3 linked regions of the Homo sapiens genome follow. The protein of the gene in region 3 purifies or fractionates together with the protein of the main gene of each other region. This does not show direct contact. Each region holds a gene or a part of one and is shown on either strand. Other genes may lie near its edges.

Region 1 (3,500 bases), on a different chromosome or scaffold from region 3:
AGCCAGGGCCCTTGGTGACCATAGAACAAAAAAGAAGACTTGGTTTATTGATTCCTGGCATTTTTCCAGACTGACAGAAATCTTTATTTCTAGGGTGGTGGTTTGTTTCTTAATAGTAATAATTTTTAGGGAGTCCAGAATTACCAGTGGTTAGAAGTCTCATTAGATGATTCCCTGTGCAGATTGGGACTGAATTCCTGGGTCTTTTAGCCCCTGTCTGCCCCTGCACCCTCAGCAGATGGAAGCAGCAGGCTGGGAAAGGATACCTGGCTTTGGTGCCTGCGCGGACTATGCTGAGTCACGGGATAGGCAGTGGTCACTAGGGAGGAGCCGCTCTGACATCCGGCCGTGCCGGCTGCTCCTTCACAAGGGGCTGCTGGAAAGAGCCATGGTCAGACAGGCTGGCTTCTGGTTGTACCTCTGCCCTCAGTGCTCACCGTGAGACCTGGACTACGCCACTCTTCCTTGTTCACCAAGGACATGGCCTCTGGCTTATCCCAGCCTCCTCTCCAACCCCTCTTCCTTGACTCTCTCAGTCGTCTCCGTGTCCTCAGGAAGAACTAGAATTCCAGTCCCGCGCCTCTTGAACTCCATCTCCTTTGCTCTGCCCAACAGCTGCCCCCACCCCACGATCACACCCTGAGCCTTTGTATCAACTCCACGTCCCTCCCATACCTTGAGATAACCCCCATCTCCCCAGCCCCGTGGGGCTCACGTGCCTTCTGTACTGGCGTTTCCACATCCCTGCACGTTGATCCTCTCTTCTGCCTGCTGCTCACCCACCACCCCCAGCCTTTGCCCTCCCGGACACCCTCTATGAAAATGTACAGTTGAACAGATCAGGGAGGGAAATGTTACTTGTGGGCTTTTGTAGAACTTTAAGAGAATTTATGTGTTTGGTGCAGAAAGCTCTTAGTTGTAAGAGATCAGAGGTTTCTGATCCTCTGGCAGATTTCTGTTTGAGAATTTATTGGGTGTTGGGTGCCTTGAGGTTTTCAACACTGTGTGGTGTTACTTGACTCTTTGGTAGCTAAGTCATGTTAAAGTGAGACATCCACCTGTGTTTGAGGAGCTTCAAAAGCAGTTCCCTAATGCTAGCCCCAGGAAAATCTCTTTTGGTCCAGTGTGTGTAGAGATGATCAACCTTGATGCAACATCGTGTTTTGTGTGAGATTTCCATTAGTCACATCTCTCTCTCTCTTCCAGTTCAGTGTTTTCTTCCAGTGATAAATTTAGGTCCTACCTGTTGGTGAGGTGGTCTTCTACCAGGCCCTGCTCTCCGTCTGTAGCCATAGTTCTCAACAAGGTCGTCCTGGCATTGCCTAATGAGCTTTAAACAAATGCTAATGCCAGGGTTCTGCCCAAGACCGATTAAATTAAATCTTCGGTCAGGGTCCAGGTATCTATATTACAAAAGGAGAAAAATTTAAAAAAAATTTTTTTTTAATTCCTCCCCAATTGTTGCAGCAGTTATTCTGACGTTCAGTAAGGAGCGAGGGTTGAGAACACGGGGATAGCCTGCCATGCAGCTGTACTGAGAGCTTCTGGCTTCCGGGTCGTGAGTAACCCTGAGGACAGAGCTCCTCAAGTCCTGCCGTGTGTACAGGTCTTCCCTGTCAAACTGCAGATTCCAACTCAGGAAGCCTGGGCGGGGGCTGAGAGCCTGTACATCCCCATCCGAGGAGCCCCCAGGTGATACTGCTGCTGACCTGTGTGCCACACTGAGGAGGTCGCGTCTAGGCAGTATTTTCCTTTTGACATGCCTGCATGTGTGCAGAAAACAGAATCTATTTAAATGTAATCACATTTAAGACAAACAGAGTATCTTTCTATAAAGCAAAATGACCTCTACATTTATCTTTGACATCCTTGTGGATGTTCATATGTTAAGTTTGCTTTTATTGAGGTATACCGGTACCTTCCTTGAGTAGACTATTGCTAAGAAACCTTAACCTTGTTAGTTACAACAGCCCTTATAGTCAAAGGCAGGAGGACTTTGATCAGATTTGTTTGAAAATACAACCTCTTTCGGCTCCCATCCTCAGTTGGCGGGAATGTTGTATGTTGTTGCTTCGCTTGACTCTCATAGCTCCGTCGGTCTGGATTTATATTTGGCATTGCAGAGGCCAAGGTGTTGCTGGAGGTCACCTCCCTCCAGAGTCCTGGAAACCGTGGTAGTGCGGGCCACTAAGGTAGCAGTAGCTCTGTGGGTGCTCTAGTTAGGTGCCGATGCTGATCTGTCTTCAGCATCCAGAGTTCCAGAACGTTGGCGTTAACCATGTTCTTGGCTTGGGTAACAGCATCACCCTTGCAATAAGGGAAGCCTACTGATTTTAATTTCTACAGCTCCTGACTGCCATCGTAGAATTCCAATTTTATTAAGCACCTGTGTGCCAAACCCTGTGCTGGATTTTTCTCATTTCATCCTCACAGCAATCCCGTCATGTAAATATCAGTATCTCCTCTGTAGCAGTGAGGAAACTGAGGCACAGAGAGAATTGTTAGAATGCTCCAAAATGGCACACGTGGGCTTTTAAATCTGTGTCCGTCCAATTCCAAAATCAGCCTTTCTCCGATAATACAGCAGTCCTGCCGAAGTTAATGAACTCTTTCTCATTTAACAAAAAATCTACATTGAAGGGGGTTAGTTAGGCCTTAGCAGCTTCTGTTGAGCTTCACCAGAGACACCAGTGGTTGATGCTGTATCGTAACTTTGTGGGAAAATGATTGGCTGTTGCTATTTTGTGGAAAATAATGGTTTAAATTTCAAAACTTCTTTACCTTACCTGTAGTCAGAGGTGAGCTGTTAGGGGTTGACAAGCATGTGACCAGGTGTCCAGGCCAGCCTGAAGAACGACTTGACTTCCTTATTGGCTGGAGGCTGAATTAAGAAAGAGCTTGAGCATCTGGAGCATAGATGTTGTGTTGCTTGTGTATTTTTTCGTCTCTCTATTGAACTGGATGATCTGAATGTATTTATATCTAAGAAACATCTGCAGCCCTTGATTAATAGTCATGAGGGTTTTTTCTTTAACTTTTTATAGATGAACAGGATGTTGCAAAGATAGTAAAGGGGTTCTGTGTACCCTTCATCTGGTTTTCCCCAGTGGTTACATCTTACGTAACTACAGTACAGCATGATGAAACCAGGAAATTGGCATTGGTACCATCTGCTCATACAGCTCTGTGCCCCTTTATCACATTTGTGGATTGTGTAACCATTATTATCTCAGTGAAGATCCTGAACTATTTCATTACCACCAAGGCCTCCCTTGTGCTAACCCCAATCATAGTTGCATACCCCTCCAACACCGCCCGTGACCCTGACAATCACAGCTGCCGACAGAATCGTCTGATTAGGAGTGGAATATCGTGTGTACAGACCACATGGTCTCTCCGTTTGATGCTGAGGCTGCTCAGATCTGCAGGGGTCACTACCCAGTGCTAAAGGCCGATTGTCGTTTCCATGATCTACTTCCTGCACTTAGCCATGCTCAGTG
Region 2 (3,729 bases), on a different chromosome or scaffold from region 3:
AAACATTCAGCACAGAAGGAAAATATAAATAACATTTATTCACCATTGTTCTAGAAACAAAGCTACCTGTGTGTTCAGAACACAACACAGCAGTCCTGAAATAGTAATTGAATCAGTATTATGAAAATAAATTACTCCAAATACTTTTTCTAGTTCTCTCAGGCACATGCATTTCTCTAATATTGGAACTGCTGGTCATTAAAGTATGCATGTTTTGGACTTTCTTGATAATACTGTTTTCCAAGGTAGTCATATGAATTTATATCTGTACCAGCCATCTATGAAAGTCCCTACTGTTCAACATCCAACTTTAATTTAGGTATACAGTGTTCTGGCACTGTGGCTGAAATGTGCATTTCCTTCATTAACATGGTTGAACACCTTTTCATGTTTATTAGACATTTGGATTTCTCCTTTTCTGAAGTGGCTGTTCAAGACTTTTGCCCATTATTCTATTAGTGCCTGTAGCATCTTGTTTAAGAAATGTTTCTCTATACTAAGGTCATGAGTATCTTCCTATATTAATTCTAAAAGTGTTATTGTTTTGCCTGCCTTTCTGCCATGCCTCCAGGTCATAAATCAAGTGTCTGGCTATGCATAATACTGTTTCTGGACTCCATATGGTGTTCTATTGGTCCATCATTATTAGCCTACCCAGTGCCAATATTACACTATCTTTTTTTTTGAGATGGAATCTCGTTGTGTCGCCCAGGCTGGAGTGCAGTGGTGCGATCTCGGATCACTGCAAGCTCTGCCTCCTGGGTTCACACCATTCTCCTGCCTCAGCCTCCCGAGTAGCTGGAACTACAGGCACCCGCCACCACACCTGGCTAACTTTTTGTATTTTTAGTAGAGACGGGGTTTCACCATGTTAGCCAGGATGGTCTTGATCTCCTGACCTCGTGATCCACCCGCCTCGGCCTCCCAAAGTGCTGGGATTACAGGCGTGAGCCACCGCGCCTGGCCCAACACTATCTTAATTATTATAACTCTTCTTGATCTCTAGCAGAGGTTTTCCTAACTTTTCTTTTTCAAAGTGTTTTGCCTTTTCTTGGGCCTTGGCAAATGTTTTAGAATCAGCTTGTCTAATTTTTTTAAATGTGGGATTACATTAGATCTATAAATCAGTTTCCAGAAAATTGACACATTTACAATATTGAATCTTCCACTCCTTGAGCCACTGTGCTCTTCATTTATTTAGGTTTTATTTAAAGCCACTCAATAAAGTTTTAGAATTTTCTATATCTGTTATAGTTTATAACCATTTAAAACCATGAATCTGAAAAAAATATATTTTGTAAATGATGTATAAGTTTTTGGTGAGATACCTAGAGCTTGGGATAAGTATATATAAGTATGAAAATAAACTGGGGCTGGGTGCAGTGGCTCACACCTGTAATCCCAGCACTTTGGGAGGCCGAGGCGGGTGGTCAGGAGTTCGAGACCAGCCTGGCCAACATGGCAAAACCCCATCTCTACTAAAAAAAAAGTACAAAAATTAGCCAGGCGTGGTGGTGGGTGCCTGTAATCCCAGCTACTCAGGAGGCTGGGGCAGGGAGAATTGCTTGAACCCAGAAGGCAGAGGTTGCAGTGAGCCGAGATCGCACCACTGCACTCCAGCCTAGGTGACACAGCGCAACTCTGCCTCAAAAAAAAAAAAAAAAAAGAAACGAAACTGGTGGTGGTGGTTTGCACCTGTAACCCCAGCTACTCGGTTGGCTGAGACAGGAGGATGGCTTGAACCCAGGAGTTAGAGACCAGCCTTGGCAACACAGTGAGACACTGTCTCTAAAAAAATTAAAAAATATTAAAAAGTTAACATAAAATTTCTTTTTTTCTTTCTCTTTTTTTTGAGACAGAGCCTCGCTCTGACGCCCAGGCTGGAGTACAGTGGCACAATCTCAGCTCACTGCAATCTCCGCCTCCTGGGTTCATGCCATTCTCCTGCCTCATCCTCCCGAGTAGCTGGGACCACAGGTGCCCACCACCATGCCCGGCTAATTTTTTTTGTATTTTTAGTAGAGACAGGGCTTCACCGCGTTAGCCAGGATTGTCTTGATCTCCTGACCTCGTGATCCGCCTGCCTCGGCCTCCCAAAGTGCTGGGATTACAGGCGTGAGCCACTGCGCCTGGCCAACATAAACTTTCTTAAAATGTATAAATGAAACAAAGTTCATCAAAGTCCAATTACTATGACATAATTTCATTTTAATTCCAGAATTACTGTTTTGTAGTAATGTAACATCTCACACTTCCACAGTACTAAAGTACTTGAGAGAACTTGCATGTCACATAAAGTGGTGTCCAAATATTACCATTCATGGGTCCTTATATTTATCCAGTGATAAAGTACTTACACAGTCCGGAATAATTTTCAATTCATCAACTTCAAGAGAAAAAGAATGAAGGAGAAGATGAATACATGATGGAAGAGACTGAAACCTTATTAATATACATCCCCTGCCTGGGGCTGAGGATACAGACCCTTTTCTCCCATGCGCTCTGACCCCTCTCCCATACTTGCATAATTCCCTGACCTCTACCTACTTTCTCTCCTTTGCAAAATTGGACACGGTTCTGTCAATATTCTGTGTTGAAGACTAAACGTAAACAAGTGTCTCAGAGAGGACAGTTAAAAAGTCAAACAAAGAGCAATAATTAGTTAAAGGAATGATAGCTAGTCCCTATTAGAAGGACATTCTATTAAGACTGCCTGTAATCATGGTTTGTGGAAAGACTGAAAATAACCCCCAATAAATTGGCCTCAAAATCTTCAAGCAATTCTAAGAAAATGGTAGAATTTGCACACAAAAATAAGAATCTTGAAAAAAAAAGGCGGGGGAGAGGGGCAGGGGCCGTAGCGCACGCCTGTAACTCCAGCACTTTGGGAGGCCGAGGCAGGCCGATCACCTGAGGTCAGGAGTTCAAGATCAGCCTGGCCAACATGATGAAACCCCGTCTCTACTAAAAATACAAAAATTAGCCGGGTGTGATGGCGGGCTCCTGTAATCCCAGCTACTTGGGGGGCTGAGGCAGGAGAATCACTTGAACCCAGAAGACGGAGGTTGCCGTGAGCTGAGATCATGCCACTGCACTCCAGCCTGGGCAACAGAGCGGGACTCTGTCTCAAAAACAAAAGAAAAGAAAAGAAAAAGAAAAAAAAAGGGAGGAAAACTTTACAAACAACTTCAAGTATTTTAATTCACTCACTTATCCCTCAAAACATTTTAGAATCCAGTAAGTAAAAGGCACTCATTTATACTGCATTCTACGTGAGGGGGCTAAAAATCACCTGTAGCTTCCAGAAATTTAGAATCTGTTTGGGAAGCAAGAAATAAGCACAAATAATTGGAGTACAATACAACGTAAGCACTGAATGTTACTGTTATAAAGCAGTACAAAATCCTGCAGGACCTTCAGAGACAAAAAGGATTACTTTCAAATGAGATGGTCTTGACACTTCAACAAGGGCGGTGTGGGTTCAGCTTGCTCTGGTACAGGGGATGGCGAGCCACAGCCCGCAGGCGGCAGACACCTGTTTTTGTGCAGCCTGTGAGCTAAGAATGGTTGTTACATTTTAAAATATTTGAAAAGACTCAAAAGAAGACTATTTCCTGACACAGGAAAGTTATATTAATTGAAATTCCAAGGTCCAAAATAGTTTGTTGGAACACAGCCACGCTCTCACACTCCACAGCAGAGGGGAACCGTTTTGACAGAGACCATATG
Region 3 (3,729 bases):
CACGCCTATAATCCCAGCACTTTGGGAGGCCGAGGTGGGTGGATCAACTGAGGTCAGGGGTTCAAGACCAGCCTGACCAATATGGTGAAACCCCGTCTCTACTAAAACTACTAAAATTAGCTGAGTGTGGTGGCATGGTGGCGTGGGCCTGTCATCTCAGCTACTCGGGAGGTTGAGACAGGAGAATCGCTTGAACCCAGGAGGCAGAGGTTGCAGTGAGCTGAGTTCGCACCACTGCACTCCAGCCTGGGCGACAGAGCGAGACTCTGTCTCAAAAATAAATAATAAATAAATATTTAAATTTATTTTTTATGTTCTTCCATAGCTGTTTCCCCAACCTTTTCCAGATCTGTGTGACCATCCCTTTTAATTCTCCTTCTTTTGGCAGAAGACTTCATTTTTATTTCACTGAAAACTCAAGGCCTATCATTTTTGTTTCCTTTTTCTTCACAGCCAGATTTTGTTTGTTTCTTTCTTTTTTTAAAAATGAAGCGATGCAGACTTGCTATGTTGCCCAGGCTGGTTTTGAACTCCTGGCCTTAAGTGATCTTCCCACCTCAGTCTGCCAAAATGTTGGGATTACAGGTGTGAGCATGCACCTGGCCCCAGATTTCTCGAATATGAAGAAATCTCCTGATATTTCTGTTTCCTTGCTGCCTATTTGTTCTTAACTCTTTGCAGTCATTATTTCTAGCACTACCCTCTCTCGAGTTGCCTATGCCTTTTTCTAATTGTTTCGTGAATATCTTCACTCTTGGATATACTGTTATACCTCAAATCCAACCTGACCAAAACCAGTATCAGTTTTTCCATCACTATTTCTGTTAAAGGCACCATTATTCTAGCCAACCCAAGGTAAACTTTTGTATCGTTTCTTTTTTTTTTTTTCTTTGAGACAGAGTCTCACTCTGTCGCCCAGGCTGGAGTGCAGTAGCGCGATCTCGGCTCACTGCAACCTCCGCCTCCCTGGTTCAAGTGATTCTTCTGCCTCAGCCTCCTGAGTAGCTGGGATTACAGGCACATGTCACCACGCTTGGCTAATTTTTGTATTGTTAGTAGAGACAGGGTTTCATCATATTGGTCAGGTTGGCCTCGAACTCCTGACCTCGTGATCTGCCAGCCTTGGCCTCCCAAAGTGCTGGGATTACAGGCATGAGTCACCACGCCTAGCCATTTCTTTTTTTAATATTCTAAATATACTTGATTTTTTAGAACACTTTTAGATTTATAGAAAAATTGAGAAGATGCTACAGAGATTTCCCATATACCCTACACTCAGTTTCCCCATTACTGTCATCTTACGTTAATATAGTACTTTGCTTGCAATTAATGAAGCAATATTGATATATTACTATTAACTAGAATCCATACATCATTTCATTAGTTTTGTTTTTTTTTTTTTTCAGACAGGGTCTTGCTCTGTCACCCAGGCTGGAGTGCAGTGGTGCAATCACCATTTACTGTAGTCTTAACTTCTGGGCTCAAGTGATCCTCACATCTCAACCTACTGAGTAGCTGGGACTACAGGTACACACCACCACGCCTGGCTAATTTTTGTATTTTTTGTAGAAATGCGGTCTTGCTCTGTTGCCCAGTCTGATCTCAAATTCCTGGGCTCAAGCAATCCTCACGCCCTGGCCTCCCAAAGTGCTAGAATTACAGGTGTGAACCACCATGCCTGGCTGATTTCCTTAGTTTTTACTTAATTTATTTTTATATTTATTTATTTATTACTATTTTTTTGAGACGGAGTTCTGCTCTTGTTGCCCAGGCTGGAGTGCAATGGTGAGATCTCAGCTCACCGCAACCTCTGCCTCCCGGGTTCAAGTGATTCTCCTGCCTCAGCCTCCTGGGTAGCTGGGATTACAGGCATGTGCCACCATGCCCGGCTAATTTTGTATTTTTAGTAGAGATGGGTTTCTCCATGTTGGTCAGGTTGGTCTCAAACTCCTGACCTCGGGTGATCTGCCCACCTCGGCCTCCCAAAGTGCTGGGATTACAGGTGTGAGCCACTGCGCCCAGCCTTTTTACCTAATTTTTTTTTGTTGTTCCAGGATCTTATCCAGGGTACTACATAACATTTAGTTCTCATGTCTCTTTAAGCTCCTCTTGGCTGTGACATTTTCTCAGGCTTTCCTTGTTTTCCATGACCTTGAGTTTTGAGGAGTACTGGTCAGGTATTTTGTAGGATATCCTTCTATTGGAATTTGTCTGATGTATTTCTCATGATTAGATTTGGGTTATGTGTTTTGGGGAGGAAGACCACAGAGGTAAAGTGACATTTTCATCACATTGTATCAGGGTACATAGTATCACAATGATTTTTTACTGTTAATATTTTTGTTTTTTTGAGACAGGGTCTTCCCTCTGTTGCCCAGACTGGAGTGCGGTGATGCCATCATGGCTCACTGAAATCTTGACCTCCCAGTCTCAATTGATCCTCCCACCTCAGCCTCCTGAGTATCTAGGACCACAGGCGTGTGCTATCATGACCAGCTAATTTTTTTTTTTTTTTTTTTTTTGGTAAAGATGGTCTCACTATGTTGCCTGGGCTGGTCTTGAACTCCTGAGCTCAAGGTATTGTTCCCCTTTGGCCTACCAAAATTCTGGGATTACTAGGCATGAGTCACTATGCCCAGCCTGTTAGTATTGACCGTGATCATCTGGCAGAGATATTGTTTGTAAGGCTTCACTGTAAAGTTAGGCTTTACCCCCTTCCTTTCCATACTGTAGGGAAGTCACTATTGCCAGCCCACGCATAAGGAGTAGAGAGTTGTGCTCTCCTTAAAAAAAGAGATTAAGGGCTGGGCATGGTGGCATATGCCTGTAATCCCAGCACTTTGGGAGGCTGAGGCTGGAGGATTGCTTGAGGCCATCCTAAGCAACATAGCAAGACCTCTTATCTACAAAAAGATTTAAAAAAAAAACGAGCTGGGTAAGGTGGCACACACCTGTGGTCCCAGCTACTCAGGGAGCCTCAGAGGGGAAGATTGAGCCAGGGAGGCTGAGGCTGCATTGAGCCGTGATTGTGCCACTGTACTCCATCCTCAGTGAGAGGCTGTCTCAAAAAACAATTAAAAAAACACACTATTTGGCATTTTTCTGCCCAGGAGATTTTTTTCTTTTCCTTTATTAATTTATGTATATCAATATGGACTTATAGATGTGTATTTTATATGTTAGGTTATAATCCAATACTATTTTATTTGCTTTATTGCTCAAATGTTCCAGTTTTGAACATTGGGAACTCTTTTAGTTTTTTACTTGGCCCATCTCCCTTTGACATTTGCCATCATTGCAGGTATGATTTTGTTCTCTGCTCCAGTCCTGCGGTCTGCCATTTCTCCAAGAAGCCCTTGTTCTTTTTACTAAAGAGTAATGTTAAAAACTAAGATCTGATCACTAGGTGTTTTTATTTCTATGGGAGTATTTTTTTTTATTTATGGGAGTTTTATTTTTTTATGATTATTTTTATTATCATCTTTTACTTCTCTCTTGCCCTCCTCATGTATATCAGTTATCAAAATATCATTCTTTTATTCCTACTGCTGTTACCCTTATCCCATCTACAGTACTTGTTAGCTATATAGCCTTGGGAATCTAAGTCTTAGTTTTCTCATCAATGAAATTGGAATAACTCCTGCAACACAGGATTATTATGCGTATTAAAATTTAAATAAAGTAATTTACATGTTTGGCACATAAAAAGTGTCCAACACATTGTTCTAT

Evidence for each region.
Region 1: the proteins of PYM1 (region 3) and PINX1 purify together in Homo sapiens (co-immunoprecipitation; one large-scale study listed by IntAct). This does not show direct contact.
Region 2: the proteins of PYM1 (region 3) and PRDM10 purify together in Homo sapiens (co-immunoprecipitation; one large-scale study listed by IntAct). This does not show direct contact.

Annotation. Positions count from the first base shown.
Region 1 is NC_000008.11:10,815,876-10,819,375, reverse strand, and holds part of PINX1 (PIN2/TERF1-interacting telomerase inhibitor 1), read left to right. Parts: intron 1-3,500. UniProt on the Homo sapiens protein: Microtubule-binding protein essential for faithful chromosome segregation. Mediates TRF1 and TERT accumulation in nucleolus and enhances TRF1 binding to telomeres. Inhibits telomerase activity. May inhibit cell proliferation and act as tumor suppressor.
Region 2 is NC_000011.10:129,992,818-129,996,546, forward strand, and holds part of PRDM10 (PR domain zinc finger protein 10), read right to left. Parts: intron 1-3,729.
Region 3 is NC_000012.12:55,921,239-55,924,967, reverse strand, and holds part of PYM1 (partner of Y14 and mago), read left to right. Parts: intron 1-1,196; exon of another isoform or gene 1,197-1,527; intron 1,528-3,729. UniProt on the Homo sapiens protein: Key regulator of the exon junction complex (EJC), a multiprotein complex that associates immediately upstream of the exon-exon junction on mRNAs and serves as a positional landmark for the intron exon structure of genes and directs post-transcriptional processes in the cytoplasm such as mRNA export, nonsense-mediated mRNA decay (NMD) or translation.